Regions from separate parts of the Homo sapiens genome. Here region 1 is linked to region 2. Evidence: fine-mapped expression QTL. Tissue or cell type: thyroid. Region 2 holds a variant in brackets; the other region holds the start of a gene. All regions are shown on one strand. Distances are from middle to middle.

The links. PIP is the estimated chance that this variant, and not a neighbour inherited with it, causes the effect.
Region 1: ABHD14B starts here. The variant in region 2 is fine-mapped to the expression of ABHD14B in thyroid (GTEx, PIP 0.97).

The regions. Positions count from the first base shown.
Region 1 is chr3:51,969,911-51,977,910 of GRCh38, reverse strand. It overlaps ABHD14B (abhydrolase domain containing 14B), which reads left to right and starts at 3,862. Exons shown (of 4, transcript NM_001146314.2): 1 at 3,862-3,946; 2 at 6,213-6,451; 3 at 7,727-7,968. The coding sequence starts at 6,241. ABHD14A-ACY1 (ABHD14A-ACY1 readthrough) reads right to left here and starts at 2,847. Exons shown (of 17, transcript NM_001316331.2): 1 at 2,707-2,847; 2 at 1-40. ABHD14A (abhydrolase domain containing 14A) reads right to left here and starts at 2,847. Exons shown (of 5, transcript NM_015407.5): 1 at 2,707-2,847; 2 at 1-40. The coding sequence starts at 2,775. RefSeq lists silencers at 1,644-1,938, 2,544-2,923, 3,754-3,923, 4,144-4,293 and enhancers at 3,524-3,703, 3,737-4,673.
Region 2 is chr3:52,008,115-52,016,114 of GRCh38, reverse strand. No RefSeq gene overlaps it. Among named protein-coding and RNA genes, the nearest start is that of RPL29, 16 kb to the right of the region's middle. RefSeq lists enhancers at 462-531, 207-1,086. The variant G/A (reference allele first, on the strand shown) is at 4,758.

The DNA of each region.
Region 1 (8,000 bases), 38 kb after region 2:
GGGCTACCTGGGACCGGCTCATGGAGGTCTGTACCACAGTCTGGAGAGGGAGAGGAGAGGGAAAAGAGGCTGGAACTGAGTCCCTACAAGGACCCTGGATCCCATCCCAAAACCCCACCCAGAGTCCCCAGCAGAGGAAGAGCTCCAGCCCTTGCCCTTTCCCTTGCTCTGGGCAAAGTTCTGGGAGTTCACACTCAACTACTCCACATGCCAGGGCAAGCGCTCAGATACCTCACAGTGTGAGGAGGTGCATCTGAGGTGTTCTCTGGCACACAGCATGCTCAGTGACCGCCACCATCATGGCATCAGCTGAAACCACTTCCGTTCATCAAGCGCTTATGACAGCAGGCCCTGAGTGTGGCACTTCACATACAAGGTTCTTTTCCACCAAGAATGCTGGGGAGCAGACGTGATTATAGGTCTCTTATAGGTGAGGAAATGGAGGCTCAGAGAGGTACATTCTCTTGCCCAAAGTGCCAAGTAGCAAGTGGGGGAATTGGGGTTTGAACCTAGGAATGGGCTTCTAACTACCAGGCCACACTCGGTTTGCCAAGGAGGAACCCGTGGAGCTGGGAGATGATGGATGAACTGGAGCCTTGCAGGTGGAAAAAGTGATGAGGGCTATCAAAGGAGAAAGACTGCGCGCAAAGGGACCTCCCACTTAAGGGCATGTTTGGAAATGGTTCTTTTAATCTCACTGCATTTAATACTGCTAAAATCAGAACGCGTTTTACAATCGCATTATAACTAAGGTCTAACCCAGCTGTTATGAAGAGGCTCACAGAGAATGTCTTGTAATAGAGGAAAATGCTGAGGAGTGAGGGGCTGCAGGGCCAGGGAGGAGCATGGTACACCCAGAAATGAAAAGCACAGTGTAGAGGTTGGAGAGATGAATGCCGCCTGCTACTCCCCATCCTACACACAGACAGCTTCTGGCCAAATGACTGCTTCGTGGACTCCTCCAATCTGGGGTCTCTGCCACCCCAGAGGACAGCCCTTAGGACCCAGGACTCAAACAGGACAGGCCTTTGAGACTGCCACTTCCTGACCTTGTGTCTTCAGTTTGTCAGTAAAATGGGATAACCTCGTGGCTGCCCTCCTAAGCTTCCTGTGAGATTTAGATAATACCGTGGACTGGATCAGGGCTGTCCCTGTCATTTCTTGGGCCTAGGATGAGCACGCCTGCTTCCTTCCAGGAGTCCAGCAAACACATCTTTATTTTATTTTTATTTTTCTGAGACGGAGTCTTGCTCTGTCGCCCAGGCTAGAGTGCAGTGGTACAATCTCGGCTCACTGCAACCTCCGCCTCCCGGGTTCAAGCAATTCTCCTGCCTCAGCCTCCCGAATAGTGGGATTACAGGCTCCCGCCACCGCGCCCGGCTAATTTTTGTATTTTTTAGTAGAGACAGGGTTTCACCATGTTGGCCAGGCTGTTCTCGAACTGCTGGCCTCGTGTTTCACCCGCCTCGGCCTCCCAGAGTGCTGGGATTACAGGCGTGAGCCACCGCGCCGGGCCAGCACATCTTTATTGAGTGCCAACTGGGCGCCTGCCCGAACTAGGAGCCGGGGGCCCGTCTTGGTTCCTATTCATCCCTCCGGGATGTTTTGGGGATGTTTCCTGAGCCCGCATCCCCAGGCTTCGGGGTCGGGGGGCTTGTGAGCCACAGCAGCAGCCGCCTTTCTGCTGTTTCTGGAAAACCAGGACCTAGTGGAGGAAGAGCGCGTTCCTCTTTTCTTCCAGACCACTAACAACCTCAGACGCGCGTCTCTAACTGGGCGTTAGTCCAGATTCCCACCGGGCGCGAGGGACATTTCCTTGCTGCCCACTCGGGGCGCCCCCGCGCTTCTCCAAAGCGGGAAGGGCGGGGCTTAGGCTGTTGCCTTGGCAACCGAGGGTGCCCGCAGTACTAGGAAATTGTAGTGGACCTGCAGCTGGCCGCCTGCGGGGGTTTGCGGGGGGCAGGGTAAACTGTGCCCGGGTTAGGTCATTGGAATATGCGTTGACAATGACACACAGGTGCACACACGCACAAATACGAGTCTTGCCCCCACACGCTTTTCTTTTGCACAAGCTATTCCCTGCATGTACATGCAGCCTCTTTGCACACACACTGGCCCGTGTGCAATTAATCCCTTGTAATGGTACCCTCTACATCACGCACACAGTCAGGCATCAGGAAGCCAGAGAGACTGATGGAGATGCACACTTTGAAAACCACAGGCTGATCCTCAGAAATACTCAAGCACGGTCATACACACAACCGTAAGACTACACATTCACACAAGAAAGGCACATGCACAGGAAAGCAGACACGCACACACACACAAACCCCCAGAAATGCACACACGCAGACAGGTAGACACATACCCTTAAAATCACACGCACACAGAAATACACTCGGAAGACATAACGCTGACACAAGCAGGCAGACATCAACGAACACACCCCCCCCCCAAAAATATAAGCGCGCAGAAACCCACTGACGGACACCATGCAGACACACAAGCGTACACATACACCCAGACCCCCAAGAACATATGCAGACCCTGCGCGCGCACACACATTACACGCGCGCACATGCACATTCGCGGCCCCAGCGTCTGCTTCTTCCGCGGGACTCTGCCCCGGGGCGCCGGGGCAAGGGGCGGGGTAAAGACGGCCCTCCCCTGGGCCACCGGCCGGCCTCCCTCCCCCGGGAGACTCACCGGGCCCAACGGGATGAGCGGGCGGGCCCCGCCCAGGCGGAACCAGCAGCCGCACAGCGCCCCGACCATGGCTGCCTCCGCAGCTCCGCGGGCCGCTCCGGCTCTAGGCGGCCAGGAGCGCGGCCATCTCGGCGCGCCTGCGCACTCCGCAGCCGCGGGCCTGCAACCCAGTTACCGAGTCGTCTGCGTGGAGGGGGTGCTGGGGGCAGAGCCCCAGCGCTCTCTGGCCCGCTCCCCGCCCAGATTTTCGGAACTGTTTTTGGCTTGAGAGCCGGCGGAGAGCCATGTGGCTTCTTCTCAGTGGAACATCTCCACCCTGGCTCAGTTCTCTGGCCTGTATAATGGAGTTAAGGATAAAACCCACCGCACAGGGTTGTCCTAGGTTCTTAAGGACGGGTCAAGCCTCAGAACAGTGTCCGGAGCAGAGGCCTCGTTGTGTAAATGCCAGATATTGTTATGCAGCAGCTCCAGGTCTTGGCCGACCCACTTTCCTGACTCCTACCCACTCCTCCCCACCCCCTCCCCGACGCACACCCACGGTCAGAGCCTGGGCTGGCCCTGGGCTCGTTCACGTCTACTCATGGCGCCTGCCCTGGTTGGCGATGTGTTACCAACGTCTGGCCTGTCCCAGCCCAAGGCTCCGCGTGGCGACCAGGCCCAGCACTGGGAGGCTGTGCAGAGCGTGGCGTTTACTGCTTATTGCTACTCTGCAGAGGTTGGCAACATCTGACCCGCTCTACTGGCAGGAAACAGGCTCGGGGGCATTGGGAAAACGATCAAGGCCACTTGGCTGGACACTGGCGGAGCCTCGCACTCAAACCTGTCGGGCCTCAACTCCGTGCCAGGCCAACAAGTTGCCCTGGGCAGTTCAAGCTGGGGATAAGGGGGATGGGGAGCAGGAAGACAGCAGCAAGGATGCGATCCCGAAGGAACTTTCCTCCTCAGACTGCTCCATGTCCATGTGGGGCAGGTCGCTGAAGAGTTCGAAACCGTGCTCAGCACCGCGTTTGGGGCATGTGAGACCGAGAGGCTTTGGGAAACTGACGCCGCTGTGAGAACGAGTTTAGCGGAGTCTATGGACGCTGCGAGCTTGTGGCCACAAGAGGGCGCCCCGGAGCACGGCCCAGTCCCCGCCCCCGCTGGATGGGGCCCGGCCTCTTCCCAGCGTTCCTCCTCCGGCCCCAGGTCACCGCCAGCACGCGCCTGCTTCCCGTCTGCGCGAGTCCACGCAGCTCCCCAGGTACCCGCCCTGCACTCCTGACCCTTTCTTCTCTCCAGTCAAAATCCAACCCCACCTACCCCAAGTCTTCCTTTCTCGGATCCCTGGGTCCCCTCCTTGGGAGTTGCCACCATTCCCTCCCGGTGCTCCCTTCCAGAGCTAGCGAGCCAGAACCGTAGTCCGCGGAAGCAACCTGACCGCGAGGTCAACGCGTTGGGCCCCAGGTGGCAGCGCGTTGAGCACCCCGCATCCCCGGCGGGTCGCCTTTCCCACTGGGCGCTTCGGTTTCCGCCTCTAGAAAATGGGCTTTCCGGTGTGGAAGCGCGCCTGTGGTTCCAGCTACTGGGGGTGAGCCGGGAGGATCACTTGAGCCCAGGAAGGTCAAGGCTGCAGTGATCCATGATTGCGCCACTGCACTCCAGCCTGGACGACAGAGCGAGACATCTTCTCTTAAAAAAAAAAAAAAGAAAAAAAAAAAAACCGAAGAAAATGGGCTTTTAGTTCCGGCGCGGTGGCTCACGCCTGTAATCCCAGCACTTTGGGAGGCCAAGGTGGGTGGATCACTTGAGGTCAGGAGTTCCGGACCAGCTCGGCCAACATGATGAAACCCCGTTTCTACTAAAAATATAAAAATTAGGCCGTGCACGGTGGCTCACGCCTGTAATCCCAGCACTTTGGGAGGCTGAGGCGGGCGGATCACGAGGTCAGGAGATCGAGACCACCCTGGCTAACACGGCGAAACCCCGTCTGTACTAAAAAAAAAAAAACAAAAAATTAGCCGGGCGTGGTGGCGCGTGCCTGTAGTCCCAGCTACCCGGGAGGCTGAGGCAGGAGAATGGCGTGAACCCGGGAGGCGGAGCTTGCAGTGAGCGGAGATGTGCCATTGCACTCCAGCCTGGGCGACAGAGCGAGACTCCGTCTCAAAAAAAAAAAAAAAAAAATTAGCCAGGCATGGTGACGCACGCCTGTAAACCCAGCTACTCGGGAGGCTGAGGCAGGAGAATCGCTTGAACCCAGGAGGTGGAGGTTGCAGTGAGCCGAGATCATGCCACTGCACTCCATTCTGGGCAACAAGAGTGAAACTCTGTCCCAAAATAAATAAATAGAATAAAATAAAATAAAATGGGCTTTTTACCCCAATTTGGGCTCCCTCTGGCCTGCATTGACAACTCATGACCTGTAACTTACCGTTGATTGAGCACTGAGCCCTTACTACGTGCTAGGCATGGTACATGCATGGCCTTATTTAATCCTATCAACCACCTATGAGCTAGTACTATTGAATTATCCCCATTTATAGAAAAGGATAATAACGATGAGAATAAGAACAGTAATTGTAATGGAGCCCCACCACATATTGAGGTTTTACAGCAGGCACCCCCACTGATAATTTTTCTGTTTTTTGTTTTTTTGAGATGGAGTTTTTCTCTTGTTGCCCAGTCTGGAGTGCAATGGCGCGTTCTCGGCTCACTGCAACCTCTGCCTCCTGGGTGCAAGCAATTCTACTGCCTTAGCTTCCCAAGTAGTTGGGATTACAGGCGTGTGCCACCACAGCTGGCTAATTTTGTATTTTGAGTAGAGATGGGGTTTCTTTCTGCATGTTCATCAGGGAGATCTCGAACTCCTGACCTCAGGTGATCCGCCCGCCTCGGCCTCCCAAAATGCTGGGATTACAGGCGTGTGCCACCGCGCCTGGCCTAATGAGAGTTACATGTGACCATCAGCTGGCTCTTTTTTTTTTTTTTTTTTGTGACCGAGTCTCACTCTGTCACCCAGGCTGGAGCACAGTGGCACGATCTCGGCTCACTGCAACCTCTGCCTCCCGGGTTCAAGCGATTCTCCTGCTGAGTAGCTGGGACTACAGGCACGTGCCACCACACCTGGCTAATTTTTTTTTCTTTTTAGTAGAGACGGGGTTCCACCATGTTGGCCAGGGTGGTCTTGAACTCCTGACCTCAGGTGATCCACCCGCCTCGGCCTCCCAAAGTGCTGGGATTACAGGCGTGAGCCACCATGCCTGGCCGATAATTTTTCTTAAACTTTTAATTAAATTGCTAATTCTTGAAGTTGGCTTTATTGTTCCCATATTTCAGATCAAGAAGCTGAGGCCCCAGGTTACACACTAAAGTAAATGGCAGAGGCAGAAATAACACCTATGTCCTCCTGACCCCAAGGCATGTTCTTAAAGTTCTGGAAACCTCCTGGAGGCTTCCTTGCTGCTCCTCTGGGACTGCCACCCTGGGCAGGGTGTTCTGTGGCCCCTCATCATCGTGGTTTTGAACCACAGGCCCTTCACCAGCACAGCAGCAGCAGGCATGGCAGCAAGCGTGGAGCAGCGCGAGGGCACCATCCAGGTGCAGGGCCAGGCCCTCTTCTTCCGAGAGGCCCTGCCCGGCAGTGGGCAGGCTCGCTTCTCTGTACTGCTGCTGCATGGTATTCGCTTCTCCTCCGAGACCTGGCAGAACCTGGGTACACTGCACAGGCTGGCCCAGGCTGGCTACCGGGCTGTGGCCATTGACCTGCCAGGTACTTAAGGGGCAGGCTTCTGGGCAGGGTTTGGGGAGGTCTCATTAGGGACAGGGCCAGGTTCCTATAACATGTAGCCCCTCCCCACTCCAGGGGTGGGGGCGGTGGGATCTGGAGGACCCAGCCAGGCTGGGCCCTGAACTTGACAGCGTTTGGTCAAGCACACTGCAAGGGCCTCTGAGCAGTCTTGATCCAGATGTGGTCCTCACCGCCCAGCTGCTCCTCACTGTTACCTGGGCATTGTCTCAGTGTCTCTGAGCCTCTGTTTCCTCATCTGCAATGGGAGATAACCACACTCATGTTTTGGGCTCGCTCTAATGAGAATGGAATGAGATAATCCATGTGAGTATGTGGCTAGTACCTGACACAGAGTAATCGGTGCTCAGCCAATTGGAAGTAAAGTATTTTGACTGAATAATAACCATAGGCTTTTGGAAGCCCTAAGGAGTGAGACCTGAGTCTTCTGGGGGACAAGGCAGGGCCTGGTGGGTGGCCAGGCCCCCACTTGTGATCCCACATGCAAAGCCCTGAGCTGGGTTCTAGGGTAGATGGGATCAGTGCCCAGACTGCCTGTCATAACCCAGATGGCTGGGTCCCAACCCTCGGTGCCAGGTGTGAAAGGAGCAGCATGGCTGGCCCCACCCCCTCAGGCCAGGGATGGTATGGTTTCAGGGCTCAAGGGCGAGCCTCCTGCCCAGGCAGGATTGATTCCAATGGTGGGTTGGCTTGAGCTTCAGGGTGAAGGTCTGGAGCTAATCTTGTTGGTGAAGCCTGAATGACTGGAGGAGGAGCTGCAGAACCGACCCCTCAGCTGCTGTCCTTCAGGAGCCTCTCTTGTCCCAATCCAGGGCCAGGTGCCTTTCACACAGTTAATTTTCACAACAATCTTAAATGGCAGATACTTTTGTTATCCCCCTTTAACAGATGGGGAAACTGAGCAGCTGAGAGAGGACTGAGGGGGACCTACCCAAGGTCACATAGACAATAAATGCAGAATTGGGTTCTGGACCCAGACTTCTTGGGCTTCAGAGCCTGATTCTCTCCAGGACACTTACTGCTGGGGAGACAGGCACAGACGTGGAGAGAAGTGCCTCATGCTTGGCACGATAAGATAGAATGAGGCTACTGTAGGAATAAACGTGGGCACACTGGGTGTTACAGGAACCTGGCCACAGAGAAACTGACCTAGGAGGGCTTCCTGGAGAGAGCAACCATCTCCCTTGTTTTGCCATTCACTGCCCTTGTCTTGTCTCTTTCACACCTGAATCCCTGCAGGTCTGGGGCACTCCAAGGAAGCAGCAGCCCCTGCCCCTATTGGGGAGCTGGCCCCTGGCAGCTTCCTGGCGGCTGTGGTGGATGCCTTGGAGCTGGGCCCCCCGGTTGTGATCAGTCCATCACTGAGTGGCATGTACTCCCTGCCCTTCCTCACGGCCCCTGGCTCCCAGCTCCCGGGCTTTGTGCCAGTGGCCCCCATCTGCACTGACAAAATCAATGCTGCCAACTATGCCAGTGTGAAGGTACCCTTGTGTGGGAAGCTGAGGTGCCCCTG
Region 2 (8,000 bases):
AAAAATCAGACAATTAGGCTTCCTGCCACCTGCCTGCCCACGTCCTGCTGGCCCCTAATTACTGAGCGGCTGCTGAACAGGCTGGGAGTGACCTGGATTTGGACCGAGGACCAGCCCCTGCCATCTCCCCCATCCCCCACCCCCAGCCTCCATCGCATGCTGCAGGGACAGACAGCTGGGGTGCAGTGTGTCTTTCAGGGATCTTCCCCTGGAGCCCCCAGCCCCCTTTCCTAGCCCTGTTCCCTTCCTGCTCACGATCTCTCCTGCAGAAGGTAGCTCTGGAAGAGAAGAGATGGATGCCCGAAGCCCTGGTAGCCCTCAGGGAAGATGGCTGCTAGGGGAGTGGCAAAAACCCAGAAAGCGGCATCCAAGAGGTCTTGCTGAGGTGAAGTGGCTGCTTCCCCTCCTGCTCAGCTCTTCCAGGGGAAAGATAGCAGACTGTGTTCAGGAGTAGGAATGGCAGATAAGAGGAAGTTAAAAGCTCTCCTGAGAGCCCCGGCACAGCCCAGGGCATGCTGGGGGCCCAGGCCTGCCCTTGGGGAGTCCCCTCACTCAGAAGAGGAGATGGAGCTGGACAAAGCAAGACAAGCGTGCAGGGCCTGGCCTGACTAAAGTGGTCCTGGAAGGCTTCCCAGAGGCAGTGACCTTTAGGCTCCGTCAGGTGAGGTGTACACTGTCCCAGGCAGAAGGAACAGGGCGTGTGAGGGTCTGAAAGTGGATCCTCCCCTACAGAAAGCACAGACAGAGAGGCAGGGCACTCCCTCTGCAAGCACCGACCATGCACCAGGCAACTGGCTGGAAGCAGCTAGATGGGCCCTACCCCAGGAGGGAGTGGGGTGGACACACTGGAGTCTAGAGGGAGGCTGATGTGGGATGTGGGGCCTCCCGTCATCAAGGTCCAGCATGCAAGAAGTACCTTGGCCACCTCCTTCCTGACCTGTTTCCTTTCTTGGTTCTGTGCTAGGATTGAAAGTCCCTTTCTTTGTTTCCCTTGGGGACTTGGAGGCCCAAAGGTACCTGCTCAGAAGGGTACTCCCAGCCCAAAGAGGTCAAGAGACTAAGCTGAGTTCACCCACCCAGTTGGCTGGAGTGGGCCTCAGAGAGGTGTCCACTGTAGTCTTCCAGTGGGGTTCTGGCCCAGCCAGAGATGAAGCCACCACAACGAGGTAGGTTAGAGACAGGAAGGAGATGGGACTGCACTGGGAGGCTGGACACCAGCATTTGAGAGCTGCCACAAAAAAGTCACGCTACCCCCTCGTCCCTAAGCCTAACTCCAGGGTGGCCCCCTAGAGGCCTTGCTGCCAACCCACGCCTTCCCAAAGCCATCCCTGATAAGAAGGCCAGGAAGGCTTTGCGGACTTCCTTTAATGCACGCACTGGATCCTGGGGCTTGGTGTAGCCTGAGGCCAGAAGCTGGGAGCAGAGTCTGAGGGCAGAGCAGGTGAAGTCCCTTCTCTCCACCCCTTTCTGCTGGTCTGGGCTTCCTGACCATCGCGGGGGCAACTGCTCTGTGCTCTGCAACCTAAATTGCAATGGCTGCCGAGGTATTTCCTGTCAAACACACTACTTTGCTGTAGTGTGGCGACTACCGCAGGGATATGGGGCCTCCAGGCTTCTACCAACAGCCCCCAGAGTCAGAGTCCTGTGACACATGCACACGTGTGCACCCAACCTGGAGCCCCAACTGCCTGGTCGTCTCTGGGTCCACCTCTGCTGCATCATCATTGTCCACTAGGGCAAGCTGTACCCTGCACAACACCAGGATCCTGCTTGCACACACCCTGCTCTCATCTCTCTGTTCTTATGAGATTGTTCCCATGCTTACACCTTTGCAACCTCTGAGGGCAGGTTTTCACCTGCTCATGGCACCTGACACACAGAGGATGCCTTATAAATGTGTGTTGTATGGATTGTGGGTGGTTGATGCATGGATGGACAGATGAGTGACTTATCTAAGCTCTCCTAGCCTGCTCTAGTGGATGTAGGACTTGAACCCGGGTCCTGGGCTTCCACATGCTGCCTGTCTTATTTGGCATCCAGCCTAATCCCAGCTGGATCCCCTTCAGGATATAAGGGTGTCTGTACAATGAACACCCCTAGTCTGTGCCCCCACCTCTGGCTGCCACTGAACAGCCTGGGTCACCAGGTCCCAGGTGGGCCTGAGTCTCTGTCCCTGCTGCCTGGCCAGACTTAGGAAGGTGTCACACATCTGAAGGAAGATGACATTGCCTGGGCCAACAGAATTCTCCCATTTGATCTCACCTCCAGGATCCAGAGCTGGGCAGAGAATGCAGCTAGGAGGAGAGAGTGAAGAGAGGGATGAAAAACAGGGGGTCCCTTACATCTCACCAGGCTCCCAAGCGAGTCAGGGAAAAATGAGCATCCAGAGCTTCAGCCCTTTGGGTGGGAGATCCTTAGAGGCCAACTTCTGAGTAGAAAACCTGTTCCAGGGGAGGATGGGGTGGGGCAGACCGAGCCCAGCAAGCACAGTGGTCTCAGAGCCAACAGGCAGCTGCCCCAGCTCAGCTCTGCACCAGCACCCAGTCAGCCAGACCCACATACAAGCTGCCTCCATGGATCATGGGCTTGGGCAGCCTGCTTCCTCCTGAAGCCTCAACTTTTGTATTCAGAATCAGGTGAGCAATGAGATTAAACATCAAAAGATCTCTGGGCACAGTACCCAGGCATTCCACAAATGGTGGGCTAGTGTGTATTGCTCCATTTTCCAGAAGGGGAAACTGAGTCCTGGAGAGATAAAGTGACATCCTGAATGCAATAGCAGAGCCAAGAGTGGCACACCAAGCTCCTGGCATATGGTGTGGCATTCTGACCACACTGCCTCCTGGCTTGGGGTGGGCCAGACCCAGCAGGTTCATGCATCTGGGATTTGTGGTCTCAGTTGGGTGTGTAGAGAAGAGCCACTCACATCTAGTCGAGGTTGGCTAAGCAGGCCTCCAACGTGGTACCTGGGTGACCCTCATGGCGGCTGACCCTGTAAGAAGCTTGGGAACACCTTACCCCAATCTGCCCTAGGCAATCGGGTCTGAAATTCTACCCTGAGCCCTTTTTGCTGTCCCTTCTCAATGTTGACCTTTGCCCTCCCTTCCCCCACACCCAACCTGGGGCCAGCTGCCCAGGAAGCTATCCTGGGCTACACACTTGGCCTGAAACATCTGCTGGACATGGCCAGACACATATCCTTCCTGTGACAAGATTGGAACAGGATGGGCAACACCGTCTTTGCTCTTTCTCAGGGCCATGCCAAAGTACAGGCTGTTCCTGGAAGATCGTGACATGAGCCGGGCTGGGGAGGACTGTGCCCATGGCCCTACAAGATACTGGGCAACTCTCTTGTCCGTGGATCGCAGGCTCCCCTGTGATCAGGCTCCACGGGGCTATAGCTCAGCATGTCAAAGCTAACAACTCACGGACAGGAAACTGGTCCTTTCCGGTGGGGAGGAGCTAAGTGCCAACAACTCCATCCCCCAATATAATAATCTAGCACCTTCCAGGCGGTGATGGTGGCAGGGTTCCTGTATGCCAGGATCTGTGCAGGCTGGTCTTCAACATGAGTTCTCTTGAGCTTGACTACAGCCCTGAAAGGAGGAGCTATCATTATTCCCATTCTGTAGATGAGGGTGTGAAGACCCAGACAGGGGCAGTCCTGAGATCACACAGCCCAAGAACTAGGCTCAGCCTAACCCTTGAGCAGGTGCTCCTCACTGGTACCAAGAATGTGGGTGTCATGGCCATTCACTGCTAACTGATGGGCTGGTGGCTTAGGTGGCAGCAAGAGTGAACCTCAGAGCCTCAGGGCTGTGCAGAAAGTATGGCAGGCATGAGGCCTAAGCTGAGGAGCAGGAGGCAGAAGTCACAACAGGAGGACAAATCCTGGTTGGATCAGGCCTCTTGCCCTACTCCTTGGACAAGGCAAAGAGTTCCAGGTACACGGGGGTGAGGAAAGAGGTAGCAAGGGACAGTGGCCTCAAGGGGCAGCCTTCAGGTGAGGAGCTGGCTGCAGAGACTCACAATTGTTGGCTTTTTTTATTCAAAATTTTAAAAAATTCACCGGGCATGGTGGCTCACACCTGTAATCCCAGCACTTTGGGAGACTGACGTGGGTGGATCACCTGAGGTCAGGAGTTCGAGACCAGCCTGGCCAAAATGGTGAAACCCGGTCTGTATTAAAAATACAAAAATTAGCTGGGCGTGGTGGTGGGCACCTATAATCCCAGCTACTCAGGAGGCTGAGGCAGGAGAATTGTTTGAACCTGGGAGGCAGAGGTTGCAGTGAGCCAAGATCGCACCATTGCACTCCAGCCTGGGCGACGAGAGCGAAACTCCGTCTCAAAAAAAAAAAAAAAAAAAAAAATTAAAAGAAAAAAACATCGGATGGGTTTGGTGGCTCACGCCTATAATCCCAGAACTTTGGGAGGCCGAGGTAGGTGGATCACCTGAGGTCAGGAGTTCGAGAGCAGCTTGGCCAACATGGTGAAACCCTGTCTCTACTAAAAATACAAAAATTAGCTGGGAATGGTGGCAGGTGCCTATAATCCCACCTACTCAGGAGGCTGAGGCAGGAGAATCCCTTGAACCCAGGAGGCAGAGATTGCAGTGACTGGAGATCGCACCATTGTACTCCCGCCTGGGTGACAAGTGCAAAACTCCGTCTCAAAAAAAAAAAAAAAAAAAAAAGAAAAGAAAAAAGAAAAAGAAAAAGGAAAAAAAATCAATGGGACTCACAATTGTTTTACAGC[G/A]TTCCCTGCCTTGTTCCTGCCACCAAAAGCCATCAAGCCTCCCATAATCCTTCCCAAGTGCTTCATATTCTACCATCATAGCATTGAGGATCCTGGATTGAAATCCTGTATCTATTGCTCCCAATGGGTGGGGAGCTTCAGTAATTTGCCCACTTTTTTTTCACAGCTTGCCAGGTGACACAAGGGGGACGGTCAATGAATATTTCTTAAATGGGTGGTTAGTTAGTTAAATGGACAGATGGATTGTTGGATGGATGGTTAGATGGATGGTTGGATGGACAGTTGGATGGATGGTTGGATGGATGGTTGGATAGGTGGTTGGGTGGATGGTTGCATGAAGGGCTGGCTCGTTAGTTGCTGTGTTAGTTTCCTATTGCTGCTGTAACAGATTATCACAAGTTTCATGGTTTAAAACAACACAAATGTATTATCTTACAATTCTGGAGGTCAGAAACCTGAAAGGGGTCTCACTGGACTAAAATCAAGGTGTCAGCAGGGTTGCATTCTGGAGGCTCTAATGGAGCATCCATGTCCTCCTTGCCTTTCCAGCTTCTGGGGGCTGTCATTTTTTCTTGTCTTGTGGCCCCTTCCTCCATCTTCAAAGCCAGCAATGTAAGACCAAGTCCTTCTCATGCTGCCATCTCTGTGGTTCCTCTTCTCCTCTTAAGAACCCATATGATTACCTTGGGCCCACCCAGATAATCCAAGATAATCCCCCTATTTTAACACCAGATGATTAGCAACCTTAATTCCATCTGCAACCTTAATCCCCCTTTGCCATGTTAAGTAACATAATCACAGGCTCTAGGATTAGGATGGAGACATCTTTTGGGGGACATTAGTCTGCCTATTACAGATAGATAGATGGTTGGTTGGATGGATGGGTAGATGTATGGATAGATGTATGTATGTATGTATGGATGGATGGATGGATGGATGGACAGATGGATAGAGGGTTGGATGGATGGGGAGATGTATGGATAGATGTATGTATGTATGTATGGATGGATGGATGGATGGATGGATGGATGGATAGAGGGTTGGATGGATGGGGAGATGGTTGGATGGATGGATGGCAGACTAAGCCCTCCTGACCCCCCTGCCTTTGATGGGAATGAACAGCTTGAGACAGGTCATACGTGTTACCTCCCATCTCCTGTACTCTCTATCACTATTAATATAGTGCAAGAGCACTGAACCAGGAGAGGGATGTTTGCCAGGAGTGTCGCCCAGTCGCCCAGGCTGGAGTGCAGTGGCGGGATTTCGGCTCACTGAAACCTCTGCCTCCTGGGTTCAAGCGATTCTCCTGCCTTGGCCTCCCGAGTAGCTGGGATTACAGGCTTGCATCACCACACCCAGCTAAATTTTTTGTATTTTTAGTAGAGACGGGGTTTCACCATGTTGGCCAGGCTCGAACTTCTGACCTCAACTGATCTGCCAACCCAAGCCTCCCAAAGTGCTGGGATTACAGGCGTGAGCTACCGTGCCTGGCCACCCTGCACGTCTTTCTCTTGCATTTTATCTTTCCAAATGACTTTGGCGCTCCCAGAGGTAGGGAACTCTGTCCCACTTTCCAGCCTAGCACTCCAAACGATATTTGACTCTTACCTGCTGGTAAATGAGAGAATAACTTTGTGGGACATTCAGTCGGGCTGGGAGATTGAGAGGGGGGAAGGGATCTGGGATTCGCACCCCCTCTAGCTGAGTGTGATGGGATATCCATGAGGGGTAGCAGGGAGAGGAGCTCAGCCCCCAGAACCCACCCACTTGGGTGGGATGTTTTACTGGGGAGAAGAAGGTCAATTAAGTTTGTGTTTATTCCTTGTTTAATCTATTTAAATACCAAATACTATATATACACACACACACATATACTATATATATGGTATATATACACATTATAGTATATATGTGTATACACATATACACACTATAGTATATATATGTGTGTGCAGATGTATATTGTATTTATTTATTTATTTTTATTTTATTTATTTTTTTGAGACGGAGACTCGCTTTCGCCCAGGCTGGATTGCAGTGGCGCGATCTTGGCTCACTGCAAGCTCTGCCTCCCGGGTTCACGCCATTCTCCTGCCTCAGTCTCCTGAGTAGCTGGGACTACAGGTGCCCGCCACCACACCCCGCTAATTTTTTTTTTTATTTTAGTAGACATGGGGTTTCACCCTGTTAGCCAGGATGGTCTTGATCTCCTGACCTCGGGATCCGCCCTCCTAGGCCTCCCAAAGTGCTGGGATTACAGGTGTGAGCCACAGCGCCCGGCCTATATATAGCATTTAAACAGATTATATATATAGTATTTAAACAGATAAAACAGTAGTATTTTTTATATATATATATATATATATATATATATATATTTTTTTTTTTTTTTTTTTTTGAGACCGAGTCTTACCTGTTGCCCAGGCTGGAGGGCAGTGCTGCGATCTTGGCTCACTGTGACTTCCACCTCCCAGGTTCAAGTGATTCTTGTGCCTCCCAAGTAGCTGGGACTACAGACATGTAGTACCACCACACCTGGCTAATTTTTGTATTTTTAGTAGAGATTGGGTTTTGCCATGTTGCCTAGGCTGGTCTTGAACTCCTAGGCTCAAACAATCCACCCAACTCAGGCTCCCAAAGTGTTGAGATTACAGGCGTGAGCCACTGCTCCTGGACTAAATACAGTATTTGATTAATATAAAAGAATATCAGGCCAGGCACGGTGGCTCATGAGTGTAATCCCAGCACTTTGGGAGGCCAAGGCGGGTGGATCACGAGGTCAGGAGATCGAGACCATCCTGGCTAACATGGTGAAACCCTGTCTCTACTAAAAATACAAAAAATTAGCAGGGTGTGGTGGCGGGCGCCTGTAGTCCCAGCTACTCGGGAGGCTGAGGCAGGAGAATGGCATGAACCCGGGAGGCGGAGCTATCAGTGAGCCGAGATCGCGCCACTGCACTCCAGCCTGGGTGACAGAGCGAGATTCCATCTCAAAAAATAAATAAATAAATAATAAAATAAAATAAAATAAAATAATATCTGTGGCTGGACGTGGTGGCTCACACCTGTAATCCCAGCACTTTGGGAGGCCGAGGCAGGTGGATCACCTGAGGTCAGGAGTTCAGGACCAGCCTGGCCAACATGGTGAAACCCTGTCTCTAGAAAAATACAAAAATTAGCCAGGTATGCTGGTGCATGCCTGTAATCCCAGCTATGCGGGAGGCTGAAGCAGGAGAATCACTT